7 linked regions of the Homo sapiens genome follow. The protein of the gene in region 2 purifies or fractionates together with the protein of the main gene of each other region. This does not show direct contact. Each region holds a gene or a part of one and is shown on either strand. Other genes may lie near its edges. The genes, in order: POLR1F, SLC13A2, SEC24D, ALG14, PCNX3, KDSR and SARAF.

What was found.
Region 1: the proteins of SLC13A2 (region 2) and POLR1F purify together in Homo sapiens (affinity purification with mass spectrometry; one large-scale study listed by BioGRID and IntAct). This does not show direct contact.
Region 3: the proteins of SLC13A2 (region 2) and SEC24D purify together in Homo sapiens (affinity purification with mass spectrometry; one large-scale study listed by BioGRID and IntAct). This does not show direct contact.
Region 4: the proteins of SLC13A2 (region 2) and ALG14 purify together in Homo sapiens (affinity purification with mass spectrometry; one large-scale study listed by BioGRID and IntAct). This does not show direct contact.
Region 5: the proteins of SLC13A2 (region 2) and PCNX3 purify together in Homo sapiens (affinity purification with mass spectrometry; one large-scale study listed by BioGRID and IntAct). This does not show direct contact.
Region 6: the proteins of SLC13A2 (region 2) and KDSR purify together in Homo sapiens (affinity purification with mass spectrometry; one large-scale study listed by BioGRID and IntAct). This does not show direct contact.
Region 7: the proteins of SLC13A2 (region 2) and SARAF purify together in Homo sapiens (affinity purification with mass spectrometry; one large-scale study listed by BioGRID and IntAct). This does not show direct contact.

The regions. Positions count from the first base shown.
Region 1 is NC_000007.14:19,702,538-19,706,037, reverse strand, and holds part of POLR1F (DNA-directed RNA polymerase I subunit RPA43), read left to right. Parts: intron 1-601; exon of another isoform or gene 602-680; intron 681-1,117; coding exon 1,118-1,259; intron 1,260-3,500. UniProt on the Homo sapiens protein: Component of RNA polymerase I (Pol I), a DNA-dependent RNA polymerase which synthesizes ribosomal RNA precursors using the four ribonucleoside triphosphates as substrates.
Region 2 is NC_000017.11:28,494,144-28,497,643, reverse strand, and holds part of SLC13A2 (solute carrier family 13 member 2), read right to left. Parts: intron 3,454-3,500; coding exon of another isoform or gene 3,371-3,453; exon of another isoform or gene 3,271-3,370; intron 3,257-3,270; coding exon of another isoform or gene 3,254-3,256; coding exon 3,132-3,253; intron 1,990-3,131; coding exon 1,828-1,989; intron 1,195-1,827; coding exon 1,057-1,194; intron 546-1,056; coding exon 375-545; 3' UTR 1-374. UniProt on the Homo sapiens protein: Low-affinity sodium-dicarboxylate cotransporter, that mediates the entry of citric acid cycle intermediates, such as succinate, citrate, fumarate and alpha-ketoglutarate (2-oxoglutarate) into the small intestine and renal proximal tubule.
Region 3 is NC_000004.12:118,826,127-118,829,626, reverse strand, and holds part of SEC24D (protein transport protein Sec24D), read left to right. Parts: intron 1-3,500. UniProt on the Homo sapiens protein: Component of the coat protein complex II (COPII) which promotes the formation of transport vesicles from the endoplasmic reticulum (ER).
Region 4 is NC_000001.11:95,066,452-95,069,951, reverse strand, and holds part of ALG14 (UDP-N-acetylglucosamine transferase subunit ALG14), read left to right. Parts: intron 1-2,406; exon of another isoform or gene 2,407-2,908; intron 2,909-3,500. UniProt on the Homo sapiens protein: Part of the UDP-N-acetylglucosamine transferase complex that operates in the biosynthetic pathway of dolichol-linked oligosaccharides, the glycan precursors employed in protein asparagine (N)-glycosylation.
Region 5 is NC_000011.10:65,632,776-65,635,357, forward strand, and holds part of PCNX3 (pecanex-like protein 3), read left to right. Parts: intron 1-1,303; coding exon of another isoform or gene 1,304-1,350; coding exon 1,351-1,581; intron 1,582-1,762; coding exon 1,763-1,866; intron 1,867-2,197; coding exon 2,198-2,345; intron 2,346-2,442; coding exon 2,443-2,582.
Region 6 is NC_000018.10:63,357,207-63,360,706, reverse strand, and holds part of KDSR (3-ketodihydrosphingosine reductase), read left to right. Parts: intron 1-914; coding exon 915-971; intron 972-3,500.
Region 7 is NC_000008.11:30,066,065-30,069,564, forward strand, and holds part of SARAF (store-operated calcium entry-associated regulatory factor isoform 1 precursor), read right to left. Parts: intron 855-3,500; coding exon 713-854; intron 76-712; coding exon 1-75. UniProt on the Homo sapiens protein: Negative regulator of store-operated Ca(2+) entry (SOCE) involved in protecting cells from Ca(2+) overfilling.

The sequences.
Region 1 (3,500 bases), on a different chromosome or scaffold from region 2:
AAATTCAAACATATATACAGATAGGTTCAATACAATTAGATTAAGAACAGTGAGAAAGTTGGCCTATAGGAGTAGAGGAATGATTTCAGCTTTGCCTGGGGGAGTCAGGGAAGTTTTCTCCAACAAGTAGTGGGTGTGGTAATGAAGCCACCAGGTTTTGTTTGTTTTGTTGTTTTTTGTTCCTTTGTTTGAGATGGAGTCTCCCTCTGTCGCTCAGGCTGGAGTGCAGTGCTGAGATCTCAGCTCACCACACCCTCCGCCTCCCACCACTAGGTCTTTCTCCTTAATAGTTATAATTCCTTAAAAGCTAAGAAATAACAGTTTGAAAAATAGTTGTCCCTTAATCATGACTGTTACATTTGTAGACTAAAGTGTCAGTCAGTTCCTAAATAATGTAGTTGTATTAACATTTGCATTTACTATCAACAGTTGAAGTTTGGGATTTTCTCTATTAAGTCATTGACTTTAAAATTCAGGGGCTTCAGCTTTAACCGTAATGCTTCCCTTGTTATACGCCGTCAAGTACTGAAATTCAGTAATGGTGAATAATACCAAAATTGCCTCTTATTCAGTCATGTCCACAGAGATACACATTTTCTTTGCTAAGTCCCTTCTTTCTATCCTAGTATAACTTGAAGAATTCAAATAGTCATGCTAGGATAGAAAGAATGGGACTTGGCCAGGGAAGAAGAGTTGATTTACTGCTAATGCATTAATTGGGCATTTTGTTTCTGTGTATCTTGAGTCATCATTTTAACTTAGCCAACACATCAGAATCCATTGGTGAAATGGGACTACTAAAGTTGTTACAGACTAATCATATACTATTGTTTTTGACATAGGTGGTGTATTTAGGAGATGTGTAAGTTTTGGATAGAATATCTAATCAGTATGAAAATGGCCTGGTTTGAAAGAGTGCAGTGGTGCACACCTATAATCTCAGCACTTTGGGAGGCTGAGGCAGAAGGATCAATTGAGCCCAGGAGGTCGAGGCTGCAGTGAGCCCTGTTGATGTCACTGCACCCTATCCTGGGTGACAGAGCAAGACCCTGTCTCCAAAAACATAAATAAATAAAAGACGATAAAAGGTATCATTTTCAACTTTTTCTTTTTACAGCCTTTTAGGTGTCCCTATTGCATATGATAACATCAAAGTTGTGGGAGAGCTTGGAGATATTTATGATGATCAAGGACACATTCATCTTAACATTGAAGCCGATTTTGTTATTTTCTGCCCTGAACCAGGGCAGAAGCTTATGGTATGTGTATCACTTTTTTCTAGCTCCCTTTGTATAATTCTATAATTATGTAACTTGGAACATTTTAAGAGATAATATATACCTTGGGACTCAAATAAATTGCTATTGTGAGTAAATAAATATTATTTTTAAGGAAAAATTAATTTGTATCATTCAAACGTAGGTAAGTTTTTGAATATCCTCCTAAAACACATACATGCACACGATATATGTCCCATCCACTTTATTCTTTTCATAGTAGCAGAATGATTTTAAGGGCAAAAAAATCAATTATCATTATTATTTCAAAAGTTCTCAATTCTACACAAATACTATTTCTTTATAAAGGATTCAAAGAATATAGCAGTATATGAAACAGGAATTCAAATGGGCCAGGCAGTAATGAAAATTTATCAATGACAGAGGACAGGGCAGCCAGTCTGTGCCTTGGAAATGGAAGCTCTGTGGGAAAGGTCTTCCAGTTTTTCATAAGCTGGAAATGCAGATATTGATACAAAATCTGCTGAAATAGATCCTTTTTTACTCTTTACTTTCTCCTCTCTTCCTCCAGCAGTTCTCTGTGTGTATACACATGTTCGTATGTATACTTGTATGTGTGTGTATATGTTCTTTTCCTTAGCTGATAAATATTTTAATAGATCAGAACTGTTAACCCTTGATATTGTTCATAAAAATATAGATCAATTTAACCATGACAAAACCCACAAGACACTTCCAATTTTTTTCATTTTTCAATATCAAATTAATACAAGTAGTATCCTTTGCCTGTTAAACTGGGATCTTATAACTGGACTACTAAAGTTGGCAGTAGATTTGTATTTGGAAATTAACAAACTTAACTTTCATCTACTTTGTGTAAATTATTATTTTAAATATAAACATGTAGGCCAGCCACAGTGGCTCACACCTACAATCACAGCATTTTGGGAAGCTGAGGCAGGAGGATCACTTGAGGCCAGGAGTTTAAGACCAACGTGGGCAACATAGTGAGACCTCATCTCTACACAAAATAAAAAATTAGCCAGTCATGGTGGCATGCATCTGTAGTCCCAGTTACTCAGGAGGCTGGGGTAGGAGGATCACCTGAGCCCAGGGGTTCAAGGCTGCAGTGAGCTATGATTGCGCCAATGCATTCCAGCCTAGGCAACAGTGAGACCCTGTCTGTAAAAATACACACACACATACACGGAAATAACATATATACATGTACATGGAAATAACAGATTGTAGAAAAAGTATGAAATGAAAAATATCCCTTTTAATCTACCTACTACAAGATCCACTCCTCAAATATTTTTGACCACCCACTTTTCCTTCAATTATTATTATTAATATTTGGTGAGATAAAATTTACATATAATAAAATGCACAGATCATATTGTTCAGTTCAGTGAATTTCGTCAGGTCTGTATACCATTCCATCTCCTTAGAAAGGATCTTCATGCCCTTTCCTGGCCCAATTCCTTCTCTTTATTGCAGATATAATTACTCTTCTGATTTTATCATAAGTTGGTTTTGCTTATTCTATAGTTCCATATTAATGGAATTATTCATTATACATTCTTAAAATCTGCCGCCTTTTGATCAGCATGTTTTTGAGTTTCATCCATGCTGTTGTGTGTATTGGTAGTTTGTTCCTTTTTATTGCTCATGGTATTCAGTTATATGACTATATCACAATATAATTATCTGTCTTCATTGATGGATTGATTCCAGGCTGGGGCTTTTATGAATAAAGCTATTGAAAACATATATTTTCAGACATATGAATGAAAACATACATTTTCATTTCTCTTAAGTAAATAACTAGAAGCAGAAGAGCTAGTTCACAGGGTATTTATATAAAACCATTGTCAGACTGATTTCCCATTCAACACTTCATTTACTCTGTATCGTTATTAACATTTGCTATTGTCCTTTAATTGTACTGATGGGCATATAGTAGTATCTCATTATGGTTTTAATTTGCATTTCCGTTTCCCTCATAAGCAATTTTTCATATATTTCAGTAAGAAGGGCCTGTTCAAGTATTTTGCCCATTTTTAATTGGGTTTTTGTATTTTTATTATTGACTTATAGCAGTTCTTTTTAGTCTTAAAATGAATTCTTTTCAGATAAGTATTTTGAATATTTTCTTCCAATCTGTGACTTGTCTGTTAACTTGTAATGGTATTATTTGATGAACAGTTACTTTTAATTTTGATGAGGTCCAATTTATCATTTTATATGTTTATGACTATT
Region 2 (3,500 bases):
GGGATACCAAGACCTGGGGCACCAGAGAGGGCATGTTGTATTGTCTGTGAACACACACGTGTGCACTGTCCAACATACATACCTAGGATCATGTGCATGCACACAGCCCCCCTCAGATAGCCTCACGTCACACACCCCTCACATCCATGCAGGCGCACACATATGCGCACACACACATGCACACACCTTTTATTCCAGCACATAGGAAACTGAGCATACACCCCTTCCTTACAGACACGCAAGAGATTATGTACACACGTGCCTTTCAGCCTTTGGCCTGGAGCTTGGAGCTTGGAGCTTGGGGTGTCCCCTCCGGGCTCAGAGGAGTGGGAATGGGGTGGGTCTTCCTGGGCATGGCCAGGCTGTGCCCCAGCCTAGGGGCTTGGTGTGGTGGTGTTGGCCAGGCTTGGCAGGCACTGGGCTGTGGTGTTGGACTGTGCCCAGGAGGGGAAAGAGTGCAGGCTGAAGAGGGGGATGCCCCAGCTGTTGATGGCCAGTGCGATGATCAGGACTCCAATGATGTTGAGGAGGAATCCTGCCCGGGCCTGGTGTGAGGAGAGTCCATTTGGCTAAGCAGGGACTGGGCTGGACTGCCCCCAAGTCCCCAGGTGTTTGGGGGTGCACAGGAGCCCTCCTACCAGCAAAATTCTCTCTGGGAAGTCCTCCCGTTGGTCTAACCTGCAGCATAGCCAATGCCTTTGCCCCTTGCTTTACTCCCTGTGCTAACAGGGGAAAGGGGCGCTCCTCCTGAGCTTCCAGGGCCCTGGGCTTGTTCTCTCTGAGCTCATCTCCCTGAGTGTGGGTGCCTGGCACCTTGGAGCCTTCCCCATGTTCCCCACCCACTTCCCTCCCTCTCACATAGCCTGGGGCTGGCAGGGCCTGAAGATGCCACCACTGAGAGGTCATGTCCCAACCTCCCCAACTGCACCTTCATTCCAGATGAGGACCCGCTCAACTCTGAGACTCTCAGTGGCTTTAAGCTGCTTTGTGGTTCACTAAGATGAAAAGTCAGAGCAGGAAGGAGGGATGAGGCATTCAGGCCTCCCTGCCACTTACCATATCCAACACTTTGAGGTCCCCGAAAGAGAAGACGATGGCATTGGGCGGGGTGGCCACAGGCAACATGAAGGCCAGGGAGGTGGCCAGAGTGCAGGGGAGCATGACGTAGAGAGGGTGGAGGCAGATGGCCTGGGCCTGGAGTGGGAGGCAGTGGCGCAGAGCTGAACTTGGTCCCCAAGCCAGAGGGAGGGGCATGGCCCCCAATTCTCCTGCTTCTCTGGGGAACAACCCCTGTACCCTAATACACTCTCTGGTCATGAGCCCACCTCTTCTCCCAGAAGGCACTGGGTGACCTGGAAGGGCCTCTTGACCTCTCTGGAGGGAATGAGTGTGCTGCCCTGCCTTGTGGGGTGTGGTGAGGGGAGGGGCCCATAAAACTGATCTCAAAGGGGCTCCGGGGGTGTCATCAAAGGCTGCAGGAACACGCCTGGGGAGGAAGGGGCTTGGGACGCTTCGGGGAGCAATTTCACCCCGTCACCTCAGGAATGACCAGAACAGGGACTGGGGTGGGGAGGTGGGTGAGGCCACCAGGATCCCCATCAGGATACTCCAGGGGTGACATCATGAGGGACGGGGTGAGTCAGGGGCCAAAGCGCCTTGGGGCCCAAGGTGGCTCAAGAGCCTGGAGAAGGATGGAAACTCAGGGGTCCTCTTCAGGAAAAGGAAAAGAGGAGGTGCAAAGACAGGATACTCTGCCCAGCAGGCAGAACCCCTGGTGGGGCAGGCAGGCGGGCTGCCTGGAGGAGGTGTTTCTGAGGGCCAGCTCACCATGGAGGCTAGGATGGGCAGGAAGATCGTAGTGGTGGCCACGTTGCTAGTGCACTCGGTGAAGGTGGCCACCAGGAGGGAGAGGATGATGGCAATGGCTGGAGCTGGCACACTCTGCAGTGGGGTCAGCTTGTTTCCCAGCCACTCTGACAGGCCCGATCGCTGTGGGCAGAGGAGGATGGCATGTGAGAGGCAAGGCTGCCTGGGCCCCCAAGTCTTCTGCCGAGGCTCTATGAGGCTCCTGCTCCTGCTAACATCTCCCTGGTATTCAGAGTCAAAGACAGCTCTAAAGGGATGATAGGACCCAGCTAAGACCAAGGGGTGCCCTTTCCTGCTCTTGAAGAACAGCTGGGTGTGGGAAGAAGGGGCAGATGAGAAATTAGGAGGGGGCCAAAGGGCCTTCTTGGGAAATTTGGGGCTTGGTGGGAGCAAAAATCTTTGACCGCACTGACTCCTGCCTTCCTGACCTCTCTCAGGAGGTCCCTGGACAACCTTAGCCCTCTTCCTGCCCCTTCCAGTCCAGTGGCTTGGGGCAGAGGGAACCTTGCTCCTGGCAGGGAGGGAAAGTTGGGGGAGGACCCTGACAGAGGCTGCAAGAGGCTAATGGGAGGACAGGGACAGTCCACAGGGTCAGAAGAGCTCCGAGGTCTTGCCTTCCCACGTCTGGAATGCCAGGCTGTAAGGTGGGACTTAATCTCGCTCAGTGGGGCCAGCGCCTAGCACAGGACTGGGCACAGTCAGTGGATGAACATGCCACAGACCCAGGAGTCCCCTGCACCGATCCCTGACCTGGGCAGCCACCTTCTGTTTGAGCCAGAACACGGAGGCCCAGGGATGCCGTGTCAGGGATTTCCCTCTTTTGGATGGAGGCTCTGGGGAAAGATGTTCTGGTCCCCAGAGCCTGGGTGGGTGTGATCATGGTGCCCCCTGGTGGCTGCGGAGGGCAGACCGCGTCAACACAACCCCCAATTACTTTGGTGCTGATGCTACTGTGTGCTCTGGCAGCGGGCAAAGGGCTGGGGTGGGATGGCATTTGTCTCTGAGAACAGGCTCTGCCCACCAGAGAATCCTGCCTTCCCTTGGACTTTGAGAACTGAACAAAGAGGTCCCTAGGGCTTGTGTTTCTTCCTCCCACATGAGGGCTCTAACCTAAGTCTTCCCAGCTGCTGCAAAGGCTCTGCCTACCCGAGAGGCTCCTACGTGGGGACCAGGTCTCCCCTCTGTGGGACAGAAGCAGGGCCCCCTCTCTCCCTGCCACAGAGACACCCTCACACAGGCTGAGGAGGGGGCTGGGGGCCTCTCACCTCACTGCCCTTGGCCAGGGCATAGCCACCACCCAGCAATAACACGATATTCCACGGCATCTTCTGGTTCACCGTCTTCCAGTCGAGGAGGCCAAGAGGGGCCTTCAGCTTCCCTGGGTTTTCTACTTCCCAAGCAGAGAAGGATGGGTCACCAAAGAACAAACAGGCCTTTCCCCTCTCCATTTGCGGGCTCCCTGTGTGGGTCCCTTTTGGAGCTTAACGCGTGCAGGAGGGGACCCTCAGTTCTGCAACATCTCAACTTTGTCTCCGAGTCCCTGTGCCCTTGGCAAGTCGCTCCAGCCTTTCTGGGCTTTGCCTACTCCTGCCAAGTGTGGTGGAAGGTACATTACATACTTGAAGGCAGGGGCT
Region 3 (3,500 bases), on a different chromosome or scaffold from region 2:
TGGTCAGGCTGGTCTCAAACTCCCGACCTCAGGTAATCCACCCGCCTCGGCCTCTCAAAGTGCTGGGATTATAGGCATGAGCCACCGCGCCTGGCCCCTAACACTTTTTTTTAAAGAGACAAGGTCTTGCTCTGTTACTCAGGCTGGATTGCAGTGACGAAATTATAGCTCACTGCAGCCTTGAACTCCTGGGCTCAAATGATCCTCCTGCCCCAGCTTCCCAAGTGGCCAGGATTATAGGTGTGCCCACCATGCCCAGCTAATTTTAAAATTTTTTGTAGAGATGGGGTCTCACTATGTTGCCCAGTTCTGTCTCGATCTCCTGGCCTCAAGCCATCCTCCTGCCTTGGCCTCCCAAAGTGCTGAAATTACAAACATGAGCCACTGCACCCAGCCACAAATTTAACAATTTATTTGATGAACAAAATAATTGTGGTAATATGACACTTAATAAAATAAGCCTAATCTCAGTCCTCATAGTATTTACTTAGCTAGTGAGAAATGCACTAAAGAAATTAACAATGACAATTTTGTGGGGAAGTACTATTGTAAAGGAAGTAGAGGGTGGTATGGAAGCACGTGGCAGGGGCACCTAAACAAGACTTAGGGTGGAAGGGCTCCTTCCCGGAGGGAATGCCCTGAAACATGAGTGAGAATTGGCCAGGTCGGGAAGCAGTTTGCTGGGATTGGAAGGCGGTACTTTTCAGGACCTGCAAGACATTTGGCATAGCTGGGGAATAGCATGGGAACGGTGAGAGATGCCATTGGCGGGGGAATGTGGGATCATTTTAAGGAATTTAGACTTTATTGTAAGGGCAGTAGAGTACCACTGAAGTGATTTAGTCTGGGAAGGGTCACAATCCAATGTATGTACAGTTTAGAAAGCTACATAGAACATTACTAAGTGTGGAGAAGGAATTACAGCTGGGCATACTGCTCTCTGCAGCAGGGTTTTTCAGCTTCAGCACTATTGACATTTGGGGCCAATTAATTCTTCGTTGGGGGAGGGTAACAGAGTGCCATCCTGTGCATTGTGGGATATTTAGTAGCATCTTTGGTCTCTATCCACTGGATGCCAGTAGTACCTCCCCCAACCTTCTGGGAGTTGTGGCAACCAAAAATGTCCCAAACATTGCCAGATGTCCTATTTTAGGGGCAAAATCGCCCTTGCTTGAGGACACTGGTCTGGAGACTGAGAGTTAAGAAGTATTAATGTAAGGCCGGGTGCGGTGGCTCACGCCTGTAATCCTAGCACTTTGGGAGGCTGAGATGGGCAGATCACGAGGTCAGGAGATCAAGACCACCCTGGCTAACATGGTGAAACGCCGTCTCTACTAAAAACGCAAATAAATTAGCCGGGCGTAGTGGCAGGCGCCTGTGGTCCCAGCTACTCGGGAGGCTGAGGCAGGAGAATGGCGTGAACCTGGGAGGCGGAGCTTGCAGTGAGCTGAGATTGCACCATTGCACTCCAGCCTGGGAGACTGAGCGAGATTCTGTCTCAAAAAAAAAAAAAGTATTAATGTCCTGAACCTAGAACAGGGGCTGTGGGGTGGTGATAGGGCTCCTAATAGTGAGCTTATATAGGTGGATCAAGCATGGTGCTTTAGGGACCATGGTCATTACAATTCTACCCATATAATAGGGAGCTTATCTTTGTTTATTTTAGATAAACATTTTCCCCCCCCAACAAATGGCTTTTAATTTTGGTTTTAGTTTGTCAGGTCCAGGACCAAATTCAAGGCATGCTATTCTGTGATGTGGTTTGGTCAGTGTTACTTTGCTGATAACAGTCCCCTTTAGTGGAAAGGGATTTGTTAAAGGGTATCAGGAAGCAAACAAAACATCAGAAAAAGGCAGAGAACCAGACTTGGGAGTATGTGGTCCATGAAAATGAACATTCCCATGCAGGACCATTCCACCAGAAGTCACCACCATTCTCTCCCAGGAGAATCATCTCTGCCACCAGGCTGGCCAGAGTCTCCCAGAGGTGTGCTGCTTTGCTGAATTTAGAGCATATGGCAAAACAAATTGTAAGGCAGTCTAGGAATTTTCACTTTTCCACCTCAAGACCTTATATTAATATTAATAGAAAAGTCAGAAAGGGATTGGAATTGTTGTGTTTACTGGTCCATGGTATCTGCCGCTGTGTGAGAGACCAACTTGTGATCTTAGATTTTTTTTGGTGGGGGGTGTCTTAAGAACAGTTCATTCTCATTGCACGGTGTTCCTTTCCTATTAAAATTCTCATATTGCTCTATAAAGGACCTGATTCTGTTTGTGTTTGAGTACTTTTGAAAATGCCAATAACATGGCTGGGGGAAGACTATGACTTTGCAGATATCAGTGATACTGACTTCCCTTTGCCCTGGGGGTGAAGTGCAAGTGACACATAGGACTTTGCAGTCTGACCCCAGCCAACCTGGACAGCTTCCACTCTGGCTACTTTCCCTCCCAGCCTCTCCACACCAAGCCTTTCCCCTGTCCTGGTCGTGCCATCCTCTCTCATGTCTTTGCTCAAGCTTTGCTTTCTAACTGGAATCCCTTATCCTGTCTTCTATATGAAGAAAACTCCTGCTTGTCCTTCAAGATTCAGCTCAAGCAGTCCTCCTTCTTTGAACTCTTCTCAATTCCCCCAGGAAGAGTTAGGTAGTCTCTCTGCATATTGTAACAGTCATCCCAAGACATTGTAATGATTTGTTTACATGGTTGTCTCTTCTCTCAAATGGCTCAAAGGCACCTTAAATGTATGTTGAATAATAATGAGAATGATTTGAGAATGCCACAGAATGATTTGAATCACTGCCATAGAGTTGATTCCCAAACAAAAGGGAGAGCACAGTAATATTGATGTATAAAGTTCTGCTTGCATATATCAGAGCTTTTTTTTTTAATTCTCTAGACATGTCTATAGGGGTTTTCATGAAAATTGCTGCTATCCTACTTATTTTTTTAAAGGGGGAATATTTTTGGAGAGCTGTGAGGCAAATTTAAAAAAAGAAAAAAAAAGACCAAAAAAAAAAGAATATTTTCGACTTCTCGTAGTGCATGTAATTATTTAAGTTGAAAATATTTTAATGCTACTGTTGTGAATTGCCTACTTTTGTCCAAAATAATGTTTTTAAAATGAAAATATAAATGTGCTTGTAATTATGTTGCATATGCTTTGTTAGAATAAAAATGCTTAAGAAAGGAGAGCAGGGGCTATGGCCAGGGAAGATGAAACAGCTGTTTTAAAAACCGTCATATCCATTGGTTCATTTAATTCTCAGAACAATCCTTGGAGCTAGGGAATATTATTGCCATGACATGGGATTACAAGTTGAAGCTCTGAAAAATAGAGTATCTTATCGGAGTCACAAATTCAAACTTGTCTGTGACTGCAAGTCTCATGTTTTTCTAACTTTGCTGGGTTTGGGGTTTAGAACTTTGTATTAAAGTGTAGTGCTATAAGGATAATATTTATTGAAAATAGTGGTATATGAATTTGCTAAGTAAAACTA
Region 4 (3,500 bases), on a different chromosome or scaffold from region 2:
TTAAAGGTGTGAGCCACCTCGCCCAGCTCCCCAGCTCGGATAATTTCTTTATGGCCAGTTTTTACACAGAAAGGTGGAGTAAAATTAGAGTAGTATTTTTAGGTTTTATGACCAGCTTTTGGGAGAAGGAGTTCTTGGTTTCTGTGACCCGCCCTGGGGAAGAGAGATTCTAGTTTCTATGGCAAGCCTCAGGGGAGTATGGGACTGAGAGACAGAGGACAGGAGAAGGCCAGAGAAAAATTTTTGCTTCTAAGGCCTTCATTTTGGGATATTATTTTCTAAGTCCCAACACTACTATTGATTACACACTAAGGGATTTGTTTAACATTCTGGTATAAGGAGGTAACAATCACAAAGGCCTCTATCTCCAATGTCATTTAGTCTAGGTTTGAATAAAGACTAGGGAATCTGGTTAATGTATAACATCTCAACACAAAGGTCAGGAAGCAACAGACATACACCAAAGAGAAAAAGCCATGTTACATGAGTCAGTTTCCAGGGCTTAGCTTTTCCCCTTGGCATAATAAATTTGGAAGGTCTTGACATTTTCTTTTCTTTTTACATAAGCATTTAATAAATGGTTACTGTTATTAGTCTTGGTGGCAAAAGGAGCTTTTGAAGTTTTGTTTTGGTTTTTGTTTTTAAGACAGACTCTTGTTATGTACCCAGGCTTGCCTCTAAATCCTGGGATCAAGCGATTCTGAGACAGCCTCCCGAGTAGCTGGTACCACAGGCACGTGCCACCGCACATGACTTATCTTTTTCAGTGGAGAGTCACCCACTTCAAGCCTGCATTGTCAAAAGAATGTCTTGACAAAGACCGAAGTAGAGAAACAAATAGGAGCCTTTTGAATATTTCAGATAAGGATGTGAAAAGAAGGTGATAGCACTTGGAATGGCCAGAGTTGAGAGACTGGAGTCTGACTGGAGTGATAGGTGTGGGGCTGGAGAAAAGCAATCGCATTCAGATGAGATTGGAAGATTTTAGGAGTTAAATCCACAACTGTGGATTGAAAGTAGAGGATGTGGGAGGGAAGGACTGAAGGGTGATTTCCAGGTTTCTGACTTGAACAAATGGATGGATGTTAGAACCATTCACTTGATAGTGTTACATTTGGTGGACTAGAAACCAAAATTAAGGTTGATAATTCACCTGGCAAATGGTGCCTTCATTCAGATTATTGAGGGTAGGAAGGTATCAAGGGCCTGAAAGAACCATGCCAATTAAAGGAAGACTTGTAATCAAATAAGCAGTTTAATAGTTCATGCCCAAAATTTTGGAGGAGGCAGAAGGCATTTTCAATATTTACCTTGAAGACCAAGCGACATTTACTCTTTAGATATCATAAAATATTATTAGTAGGCCAGGCACTGTGGCTCACGCTTGTAATCCCAGCAATTTGGGAGGCTGAGGTAGGTGGATCACCTGAGGTCAGGAGTTCAAGACCAGCCTGGCCAACATGGCAAAACCCCATCTCTACTAAAAAATACAAAAAAATTAGCTGGGCATGGTCGCAGGTGCCTGTAATCCCAGCTACTCAGGAGGCTGAGGCAGGAGAATCGCTTGAACCCAGGAGGCAGAGGTTGCCGTGAGCCGAGATCACGCCTGGGCAACAGAGCAAGACTCCATCTCAAAAAAATAAAAAATTATTAGTAGATCACTTCTGTTCAGAGAACATTTGCCAAAACTACTTTTCTTTGAAACATAATACAGCCTTCTTAGGCAAATGTTAGATTTAATATCAAACATTCATTCTTTCATTCAATAGGACAGCCTGCTATTTCTAGGAATAGGAGGTACAGCAGTAACAAACACAAATCCCTGCCCTCATAGTATGGTGCTTGCCTTCTAGTGAGGCATGGATAGAGGGAGATAAAAAGCAAAACAAATAAATAGACTACATAGTAAGTTATGCAGTGATAAACACTACGATTTGGGGAAGGGGCATTGCTTTTTTATGAAGATTGTCAGGGAAAGCCTTCTTGGGGAGATGACAGCCAACAGCAAGGAGGCTAGAGTGATTAGAGTAGACTGAGTAAGCGGGGAGGAACAGGAGATGAGCTCCAAGAGGGAACATAGTTGAGGTCAGAGTATAAGAAGCCTTTTATTTCACATGAGACATGAAGCCACTGGAGGATTTTGAGCAGAAGTAAATAATTTGATCAACTCGAATAGGGTCACACGGGATGTTATGTTGCGATAGACTGAAGGGGAAGTGGGTCAGGGAACAGATCAAGAAACTGTTCATAATCCGTATGAGAGGTGATAGTGGCCTGGAGCAGGGGAGTAGCAAAAGAAATGGTGAGAAATGATTGGATGCTGGATGTATTTTAAGGTAGAACTTAGAGATTCTTATTCTCAAAAAAAATGTATCAATAAAAGAGTAAAATGGAAGACAAAATCCATCATTTTAATGACTTTATTCAGTAACAAGTTTAAATTTTCAGTGAATATACTGTCAAGCTAAATAACAGAGAGAGATTCTCCAAAGATAATAAGTGTATTCAAGAGTAAGCATTGTAGTGTGGAACACACATGCCGAGTAAACTATGGGCACATTCAAAGAGGCAAGGGAAGACAGCAATTTTTAAAGCTAAAATGGGGAGGGTTACATAAGTTGTTTTGAAACAATTATCCTTGCTTACAGGGATCAATAATAAGGGTGGCATCAGTCCAAGGTTAGGCAGGCAACTGCTGGGCAGATGTCCTTGCAGAAGTTTTTTTTTGCATAAGGTTGCAGTGGCCTTTGTACAAGGTTGTGGTTTTGGTATAGTCTTTTGTAACAGTTCTTGTTTTCAGGCGATTGAGCATTAAGAACCCTTCCTTCATGGCCTTTCCCAGCTCCATTTTGTCACAAGTGACTCTATTTTTATCCTGACAACTTTCACAGTATTCAATGAGGGTTTCCTTAAAAAATAAAAATAAAAATAAAAAGTTTAAAAAAGGAAATAAAAGACTATTAAAGCAGGTATAATGAAGTTTTAATTGTAGTGGAAGATGTTGTGGATATTAGGTTTTATCCTTAATTATTCCAGCTGTGAAAACAAATACCTACTTGGAGTACCACCACTTGTTTTTTTTTTCTTTTTTGAGACAGAGTCTCGCTCTGTTGCACAGGCTGGAGTGCAGTCTCAGGTGATTCTCCTGCCTCAGCCTCCTGAATAGCTGGGATTACAGGCATGAGCCACCGCACCTGGCCTAACTTTTTTGTTTTTTTTCGAGGCTAAACCAAAGATACTAAAATGAGTATAAACCAGATGTGTAAATTATATGCCCCAGTCAAGAAGATGGGTGACAGGTTATAAAGCTAATGTATGATTTTAATTCCTGAAATTCACACTAAATCTATGCCAAATTTGTTTCTATATATAATTCCTTCTGGGATCTAGAACGAAATCCTTTCCTTTCTACTATTAAAAAAAAATGTGGGCTTGGCATGGTGGCTCACGCCTGTAATCCCAGTACTTTGGGAGGCCGAGTGGGTGGATCACCTGAGGTC
Region 5 (2,582 bases), on a different chromosome or scaffold from region 2:
ATTCTGTCACCCAGGCTGGAGTGCAGTGGTGCCATCTGGGTTCACTGCAGTGTCCACCTCCCAGGTTCAAGTAATCCTCCTACCTCAGCCTCCCAGGTAGCTGGGACTACAGGCATGCACCACCATGCCTGGCTAATTTTTGTATTTTTTGTAGAGATGGGGTTTCGCCATGTTGTCCAGGCTGGTCTTGAACTCCTGGGTTCAAGCGATCCTCCCACCTCCACCTCCCGAAGTTCTGGGATTACAGGTGTGAGCCACCCTGTCTGGCTGAAGCTTTTCTTTTCTGGGTCTTTTTAGCAGCTCTGGTGGTGCCTGGATTGTAGAGGCGAGCTATGGGCAAGAAAGTCAGTCTGGAGCGGGTCTGCCCTGGCAAAGGGCCTGCCCCATTAGCTCCATCTTAGGGTGGCACATGGAATCCCCATCACCTCACTGGCTGCCCTGCCGGCCTTAACCCGCCCGTGCATCCTGGCCATGCCAGCTACCTGTCTTCCAAAGCTCCTGTACTTTTGCCCAACAGGGCCTTTTAACAAGAGGTCCAGGAGCCCCCAGCTTTGGGTACCACATGTGCCCGTGGCTTTTTTCTGAGGCGAGGCCTGATGGCTGTCATGCTTCAGCTGCCTAAAGGGACCTGTGACCCAGGCACTCTGAGGCAGGCCCACTACTTCAGCCTGCCCTTCCGGCCCCGAGATCTGGATCCCACAATGTCATGATGGGGAAGGTCCGGGGTTCAGGCGGCAGTTCAGTCTGTTCTGCCCCACTCGCTCCCCGCCCCCTGCCCATGTGACATCTGGATGCTCCCGCGCTCGGGGTTATGTTTGTGCAGGAACACCAGCTCCTGCTGCTACCTGGCCCACGTGCTGCACAGGCACTGAAGGTTCACCTGAGGGCCACACCATAGTGTCGGGGCCAGCCAGAGGCGGGTGGGGGACAGGGTTCAGGGCAGGTGGGGCCAGCTCCACCTTGATGACTTGGAAGCTGAGGTGGTAAATGTTGAGTGTGATGATCTTGTTCTCGTTGGGGGCTGCCATTTGTTTGAGCCTCAATTTCTCATACAAACGGGGCATATTCTAGGGCAGAGGCAGGCAGATGCTGCTTGTGAGTGCTAGCCCCAGCACAGGACTTCCTGCTCTGTAAGTGGGTGCTTCCTGGCGGCTTTGTCACTCCTCCCTGGTCTAGGGGAAGGAGCCAACTTGCTTGGTTGCTCTTGAGAGCTGAGATGGCTCTAGGAGCGGGGCATCCCAGAAAGCGGACTTCAGCTCAGTCTTGGGGAGGAGCCTCTGAACCTCCATGCTTTCTCCTCCAGTGGCCAGGGCCGGGACCCCGGCCTGACGCCTGCCCCTCCTCTCCCAGAGCATCATCTACTACGTGAGCCGCTCACCAAAGCTGGAGGTGTGGCTCAGCCATGAGGGCATCACGGCAGCCCTGAGGCCTGTGCGGGTGCCCGGCTATGCCGACTCGGATCCCACCTTCTCGCTGAGTGTGGATGAGGACTATGACCTCCGCCTGTCTGGCCTCTCGCTGCCCTCCTTTTGTGCTGTGCACCTCGAGTGGATCCAGTACTGCGCCTCCCGGCGCAGCCAGGTCAGGCTCCACTACCTGAGGCTGCCACCTGGGGCTGTGGGACCTGGGCTTCCCTGCTCCCCTTCTCCCCATTTGGTTTCCTCTCACTCTGAGCCTCCCTTAGCCTGAGCCCCAGCCCCCACTCCAAGGTCCCTGTCCCAGGTCTGAGCTGGGCTCTGGGATGGGGGTCCTTATGCCACAGCCCGTGGACCAGGATTGGAACTCCCCGCTGGTCACGCTGTGTTTTGGCCTGTGTGTGCTGGGCCGCCGGGCCCTGGGGACAGCCTCTCACAGCATGTCTGCAAGGTGAGTGCTCGGGTGTCCCGCGGGGCCTACTGCCGTCCCCACCCCACCTCTTCCACGAAGAGCACTGTGGTCTCTGGCCACAGTGGCCACAGAAACTGCAGTGGCCCTTCCTGTTGGGGTACCTCTTCTCCCACGGGCAGGGCACTTCCTGGTCATGACCTTGCCTGCTCCTCAGTGCTCTGTGAGAGACATGGGCAGAGATTGGCCTCTTTGTCAAGATGGGGAAACTGAGGCTCAGCGTGAGGAAAGGCCTCTGCTTGGATCACTCTGAAGCCTTACCCCTGGGTCCTCGACACCCCTCTCTCCCCTCCCTGTTTTTCCTCCCACTTAGCCTGGAGCCCTTCCTCTACGGCCTGCACGCCCTGTTCAAGGGGGATTTTCGCATCACCTCCCCACGTGACGAGTGGGTCTTTGCCGACATGGACCTGCTTCACCGCGTTGTGGCGCCTGGGGTTCGCATGGCCCTCAAGCTTCACCAGGTTGGGGAGGGGTGTGCCCAGCAGCATGGGCAGGTGGGGGATGAAGCCTCTCTCCAGGGCAGGGGCCACTGACCCCTGTTCCCGTCTTCTCTACCAGGACCACTTCACGTCCCCAGATGAATATGAGGAGCCAGCAGCCCTATACGATGCCATTGCGGCCAACGAGGAGCGGCTGGTCATCTCACATGAGGGTGACCCAGCATGGCGCAGCGCCATCCTCAGCAACACGCCCTCCCT
Region 6 (3,500 bases), on a different chromosome or scaffold from region 2:
TTCACCATGTTGCCCAGGCTGGTCTCAAACTCCTGAGCTTGGGTGATCCACTCACCTTGGCCTCCCAAAGTGCTGGGATTACAGGGGTGAGCCACCATGCCTGGCTGAGAAATTCTTTCTTTTCTAATGTAATTTTTAATTCCAGTCTTTGCAAAGTCAAGCTGTATGTATCTTTAGTCATAGGACAATATTATTTCATTATAGACATATTCAGGTTTAGAAACTCTGCATGCCTTTTGGAAGAATTCGCCTCTCCTTTGGTTCCTCTCTATTGCATGATATTATTTAAGTTACTTTTTACAGCAAATTAAGATAATCTGATATCTGTTTTCTTGAGACTAAGTAAAACAAACAAAATTAGGACCTTGGAAGAATTACATAATTACACAGGTAACCTTGCTTAAGAGTATTTTATAGTAGCCAGGCCTAGTTTACCCAGTCTATCCAGAAAGTGATTCTTACTATGTTTGGGTTTATAGTAGAAGAAGAAAATATTGGACAAAAAGCAGTATTGACAGGGAGTCACACATACCCTCAACTTTGGGGAGCAGTACATATTAATAGAGTTGTTCTTGTCTTATATCACAACTAAATAATAAGACATTTATTAGAACTGTAGAGTCAGCCTCAGCAATTAGTACTGTTAACTGGGATTTTGAGGTTTATCTGTTTTCTACTATCTTTCTCTAATTAATTTTCAAACTTTTATCACTTATTCATAGCTTAACATACTTCACAACTTCTTTCTTTCATAGGCTGTGGCCCAGTCTGTCTATGCAATGTAGATACTGTTTTGTGTGTTTTCTGGAATTTAATACATACATATAGAAATAATTGCTTTTTTTCTCTCCTTTGCAATAAACGGACATGCATATAGACGGTCATCACGACTAATTATTCTGTATTGCTTTCAGGATAAGCTGCTGCAGGCAAAGAAAGAAATTGAAATGCACTCTATTAATGACAAACAGGTAAATCTCTGTCTTCAGAATGCATTTTCTGTATAACTCAGCACAGCTGTATAAAGGAAAAACAGAGTTACTTCACCTGTGAATAGTTAATTGAAAGCATATATGTACTGTTTTTTAAAAGGTGGAATTGTTTGAATGGTCTAGTAACTCAGAATATCACACACACGCAAAATGAATAGACTCCCACACACATTCATATCTACAAATGGTCAAATAACAGAATGTTTTACTGGCAAATAATTTCATTTTAATTTTTTTTTTAATGAACTTTATACAAATGCTTAAGAGGAAAGGAATATTTAAAATTTATTTGGTTATGGAATTTTTGATGAATAAAATGCTATTTATATTTCAGTATAAAACATAATAGCAAATTAATAATCACACACCCATCACCCAGCCTAAGAAGTAGAAATGATCAGGGTCTCTGAAGCCCCCACAGCAGCCTTGTCCCTCTTTTCTTGTTCCTAGAGGGGCAAATGCCAACCCGATTTTTGGTGTTAATCCTTTCTTTTTCTTTTCTTTTTTCTTTCCTTTTTTTTTTTTTTTTTTTTTTTGAGGCAGTGTCTCAATCTGTCATCCAGGCTGGAGTGCAGGGGTGCGATCTCAGCTCACTGCAGCCTCGACCTCCTGGGCTCAAGCAGTCCTCCCACCTCAGCCTCCCTAGTAGCTGAGATTATAGACACGTGCCATCATGCATGGCTAATTTTTGTATTTTTGGTAGAGATGGGGTTTCGCCATGTTGCCCAGGCTGGTCTTCAACTCCTGGGCTCAAGCAGTCCGCCTACCTCTGCCTCCCAAAGTGCTGGTATTATAGGAGTGAGCCACTGTGCCCTGCCTCTTTTTCTTTTTAATTTTACCATATATGCACATAACTCTAAATAATAATATATTGTTTAGTTCTTTTTTTTTTTTTTTTTTGAGACAGAGTCTCTCTCTGTCACCCAGGCTGGAGTGCAGTGGTGCCATCTTGGCTCACTGCAACCTCCACCTCTCGGGTTCAAGCGATTCTCCTGCCTCAGCCTCCTGAGTAGCTGGGATTACAGGTGTGTGCCACCACACCCGGCTAATTTTTTTTGTATTTTTAGTAGAGACAGGGTTTTACCATGTTTGTCAGGCTAGTCTCAAACTCCTGACCTCAGGTGATCTGCCTGCCTTGGCCTCCCAAAGTCCTGTGATTATGGGCGTGAGCCACCATGCCTGGCCAATATACTTAGTTCTACTTCTTTTATTATATCATTCTTATTTTTTAACAGCTTTATGAGATATAATTTATATACCATACAGTTGACCCATTTAAAATATATAATTCAATGATTTTTAATGTATTCATAGAGTTGTGCAACTGTCATCAAAATCAATTTTAGAATGTTTTCCTCACCCCGTGAAGAATCTCCATGTGTATTAGCAGTCACTTGCCATTTCCTCCCAGCCTCTTCTCAGCTAGGCAGTCACTCATCTACTTTCTTTCTCTATAGATTTGTATAACTTCCTTCTTTATGCTTCTTATGCAACTTGATTTCTTCACTCAATATTATTATTATTTATTTCTTATTTATTTATTTATTTTTGAGATGGAGTCTCGCTCTGTTGCCCAGTCTGGAGTGCAGTGGCACAATCTCAGCTCACTGCAACCTCTGCCTCCTGGGTTCAAGCCTCAGCTTCCTGGGTAGTTGGGATTACAGGCGCGCGTCACTACGCCCAGCTAATTTTTGTATTTTTAGTAGAGACAGGGTTTCACCATGTTGATCAGGCTGGTCTCGAACTCCCAACCTCGTGATCCGCCCGCCTCAGCCTCTGAAAGTGCTGGGATTACAGGTGTGAGCCACCATTCCCAGACCACTCAATATTATTCTTTAGGCCAGGTGCGGTGGCTCATGCCTGTAATCCCAACATTTTGAGAGGCCGAGACGGGCAAATCAGTTGAAGGTAGGTGTTTGAGATCAGCCTGGACAAAGTGGTGAAACCCTGTCTCTACTAAAAATATAAAAAGTTAGCTGCACCTGTAACCCCAGCTACTCAGGAGGGAGGCTGAGGCAGGAGAATCACTTGGATCTGGGAGGCAAAGCTTGAGGTGAGCAGAGATTGCACCGCTGTACTCCAGCCTGGGTAACAGAGGGAGACTCCATCTCAAAAAAAAATATATATATATATATATATATATGTATGTATGTATGTATGTATATATATGTGTATATATATATATAATTTTAAAAATTCATTTATGTTGCTGCAAAAAGTTGGAGTAAATTTTTTTTTTTTTACTGCTGCGTAGTATTCTATTGTATGTATAGACTACATTTTGTTCATCAGTTCAGCAATTGGTGGATATTTAGTTTGTTCCCAGTATTTTTGTTAGTTTGTTTTGTTTTTTACTATTAGAAAAGCTTTCAGTATTCTCTTTGTGCACGTGTGCAAGAATGGTACATACCCAGAAATGGAATTGCAGAGCTGTAGTGTATGCAGTTCTTCAACCTCACCAAAGTGGTTAAGCTCCCATAAGTAGGAATGCGGTTTCTGTTGCGCCAC
Region 7 (3,500 bases), on a different chromosome or scaffold from region 2:
GCCCTATTCCACGTGCCAGGGTAGGAGGGAGGATAGGACGGGTAGTACCACGAGTCTGAGAAGGGTGTTGCCGCTCTTTAAAGGGATAAAAGTAGGTTAGGCATTTTTTTCTTGTGGCTATAATTTTTAAATACCTTCCTGTTCCTAAACTGTCAGAAAAAAATATCTTTATCAAGTATTTTTTCCTGAATGTTCTGGTATATCAGAGTTAACATGAAATAAAAACCGTTTCATATTTCTGCCATTATTATGGTCACTGCTATGGGGGAAAAGTGACAGGGAGTCAATGCTCTTTCTGAATTTGCACTCGAATAAAATCTAAACTTAAACTACCATTAATACTTCATATTCCAAAATCTGGCCCCAAGCTCTTTCCAGCCTTATTTTTATCATTCTCCTACCAAACCAGACTGTTCCCCAAATGCTGTCTTCTTTCCTGCCTTCTTATTTTCTCAGATGTCAACTAAACAGTCTTTTTCTTATCTCATAATATATATGAAGGTGACACAGGAAGAAACACAGTGAAAGAAAATAACATACACAATACTGATCAAAACAAATATAGTGTACCTTCCCCCTTCCCAGAGAATCTTATTTAATAGGCTAACGTCACCACAATTTATTTTCCTTAGCAAAACTAAATGCAGTTAAATTGTAAGCAAAACAAGCCTCTTGAATTAAAGAGCAAGTGAGATCAATGCAAAAAGCTTACCTATTGCTGCCAAACAAATATCCTAGTATTCCACCAGTTCCCAAGCCTGTCCAGAACCCTGGTCCTGAATTTTCATATCCTTGTTGTCCTGTAAAAGCACTGCCAAAACCAGAAGTTGCACCATGGCCAGTATTCTGTGGTCCTTAAAATAAAAATGATTTATTATGTATCCTCACTTAAACATGACAGTCTACAAAAGCAAAGATAATGTAACATTTCAATTATTTCATCTGTACTGAATTATTAATAATACTCAGGCATCAAGTTATTAACAAGTTGTATTCAAAAAGGTATTTGTAAAATACTGGTTTATAATGAGGGAGAGCATTTCCCATAGATATGGGAGGAGAGGGATAGATTTTGGGACTGGGGAGGGTCTTGCTATAAAATGACATCTGCCCTGCTCAATCAGCTACTAGAAAATCACCCCACTTTTCAGGGTTACTTTCTCTCTGCAGTACAAACTCTAAGTGGAGTCTCTAAGAGCTCCAGATGAGAGCTGTGCCTCAGTCTCTAACCGAGGAATCCAAGGGGAGGCAGCCAGATATTTATTTGTGTCAGTTGGGAAGTCAGATCTCAAAGGGACCTAAAAAGTATCTTCTGCTCAGAGGAAGTTTTAACTGATGTATACATATATATAAGAAAGTGTGCTAATCTTACACGTGTGGCACAACAAATTTGTACATATGTACCTATCCATGTAACCACCACCCACACCAATAAACCATTTCTGGCACCCCAGAAGGCTCCCTCATGACAACTCCTAATAGATTCCCATCTATGTCAGAGATCAGCACTACTTTAACTTCTCTTACCATATTTTAATTCTGTCCATTCATGAACTTTTTCTAAACAGGATCACAAAGTATGTATTCTGTGTCCGGCACATCATTATGTCTATGGGAGTCAATCCTACCATTGCATTATCAGTTTTTTTCTTAACTCATGTGTCTTCCACCGTGTGAAAAATTTACACAGTCCCATTCTAATGTTTATGGATATTCCACCTCCATTTTTTGGCAGTTATAAATAAAACTGCTATGAACATTCCTGTGCATCTTTCTTGGTGCACCATGCATTCACTTCTCCCAGGTATGTACATAGGAATAGAATTGGGTATGCATGTTTGGGTTGTTTTACCATTTAAACTCCTACCGGCAAAGTATGAAAGTTCCAGTCACTCTACATTCTTGCCCATACTTGGTACTCTGTCTTTTTAATGTTAGCCATTATGGTGGTTATCTGGTGGCTAAAAATAATCTCCCTGTGGTTTTCATCTGCATTTCTCAGGAGACTAATGATGCTAAGCACCTTTTCTTATTTCTGTTGAACATGTAAATCATGGGTTGGGACCCCAGTACTGCTCCACGGCCTGTTAGGAACTGAGCCACACAGCAGGAGGTGAACAGCAAGCAAGCGACTGAAGCTTCATCTCTATTTAAAGCCACTCCCCCATCACTTGCATTACTACCTGAGCTCAGCCTCCTGTCAGATCAGCAGCAGCATTAGATTCTCATAGGAGCACAAACCCTACTGTGAACTGCACATGCGAGGGATCTAGGTTGCATGCTCCTTATGAGAATCTAATGCCTGATGATCTGTCACTGTGTCCCATCACCCCCAGATGGGACCATCCAGTTGCAGGAAAACAAGCTCAGGGCTCCCACTGATTCTACATTACATGAGTTGTTAATTATTTCATTATATATTACAATGTAATAACAACATAAATAAAGTACACAATAAATGTAATATGCTTTAATCATCCCAAAACCTTCTCTCCCCACCCCACCCCACCCCAACCCCCCTAGTCCGTGGAAAAATTGTCTTCCACAAAGCTGGTCCCTGGTGCCAAAAAGGCTGGGGACTGGTGAAGTAGATGTCTTCTCTTATTATAAAATGGGCATTCAAGTCCTCTTTGGAGGGCCTGTCTGCCTGTTGCTCAGATTTACAGGAGTTCATTTTATGTTCTACCGGAAATACATTTTATATATATATATGCCGGAAATACGTTTCGTAAATTTTTCCCAGTCTGTAGCTTGCCTTTTCACTCTCCTAATAGTGCCTTTTGATGATTAGATGTTCTTAATTTAAATAAAGTCTAATTTACCCATGTTTTCTTTTATGGCTAGTACTTTTTATGTTCTGTTTAAGAAATCTTTCCCTATCCTAAGGTCATAACAAATATTCTCCTATGTTTTATTCTGGAAACTTAATTGTTTTACCTTTTACGTTGAGATTTATAATACTTAAAGAATTAATTTTTATGTATAGTGTGAGACAGGAGTCAGGGCAAATGATTATTAGCAAAGTTGATCAAGTTTCTCTGATTAAGAGTATTTATAATTTAATCAGGCATTTTTTTTTTTTTTTTTTTTTTGGAGACAGGGTCTCGCTCTGTCACTCAGGCTGGAGTGCAGTGGCGCAATCTCGGCTCACCGCAACCTCCACCTCCCGGGTTCAAGTGATTCTCATGCCTCAGTCTCCCAAGCAGCTGGAATCACAGGTGCCCGCCACAACACCCGGCTAATTTTTGTATTTTTAGTAAGAACGGCGTTTTACCATCTTGGCCAGGCTGGTCTCAAACTCCCAACCTCAAGTGATCTGCCCACCCCGGCCTCCCAAAGTGCTGGGATTACAGGCGTGAGCCACCGCGCCCGGCCAATCAGGCATTAACATAGCAACCACAATATACCTTGGGAGAGAGCCAAACAGAAGAGGTAAAAGAAGTTGAAAGTAAAAAACAAAATGAGAAGACAAACCTCCTTTGGTTTCCCAATGCAACGAT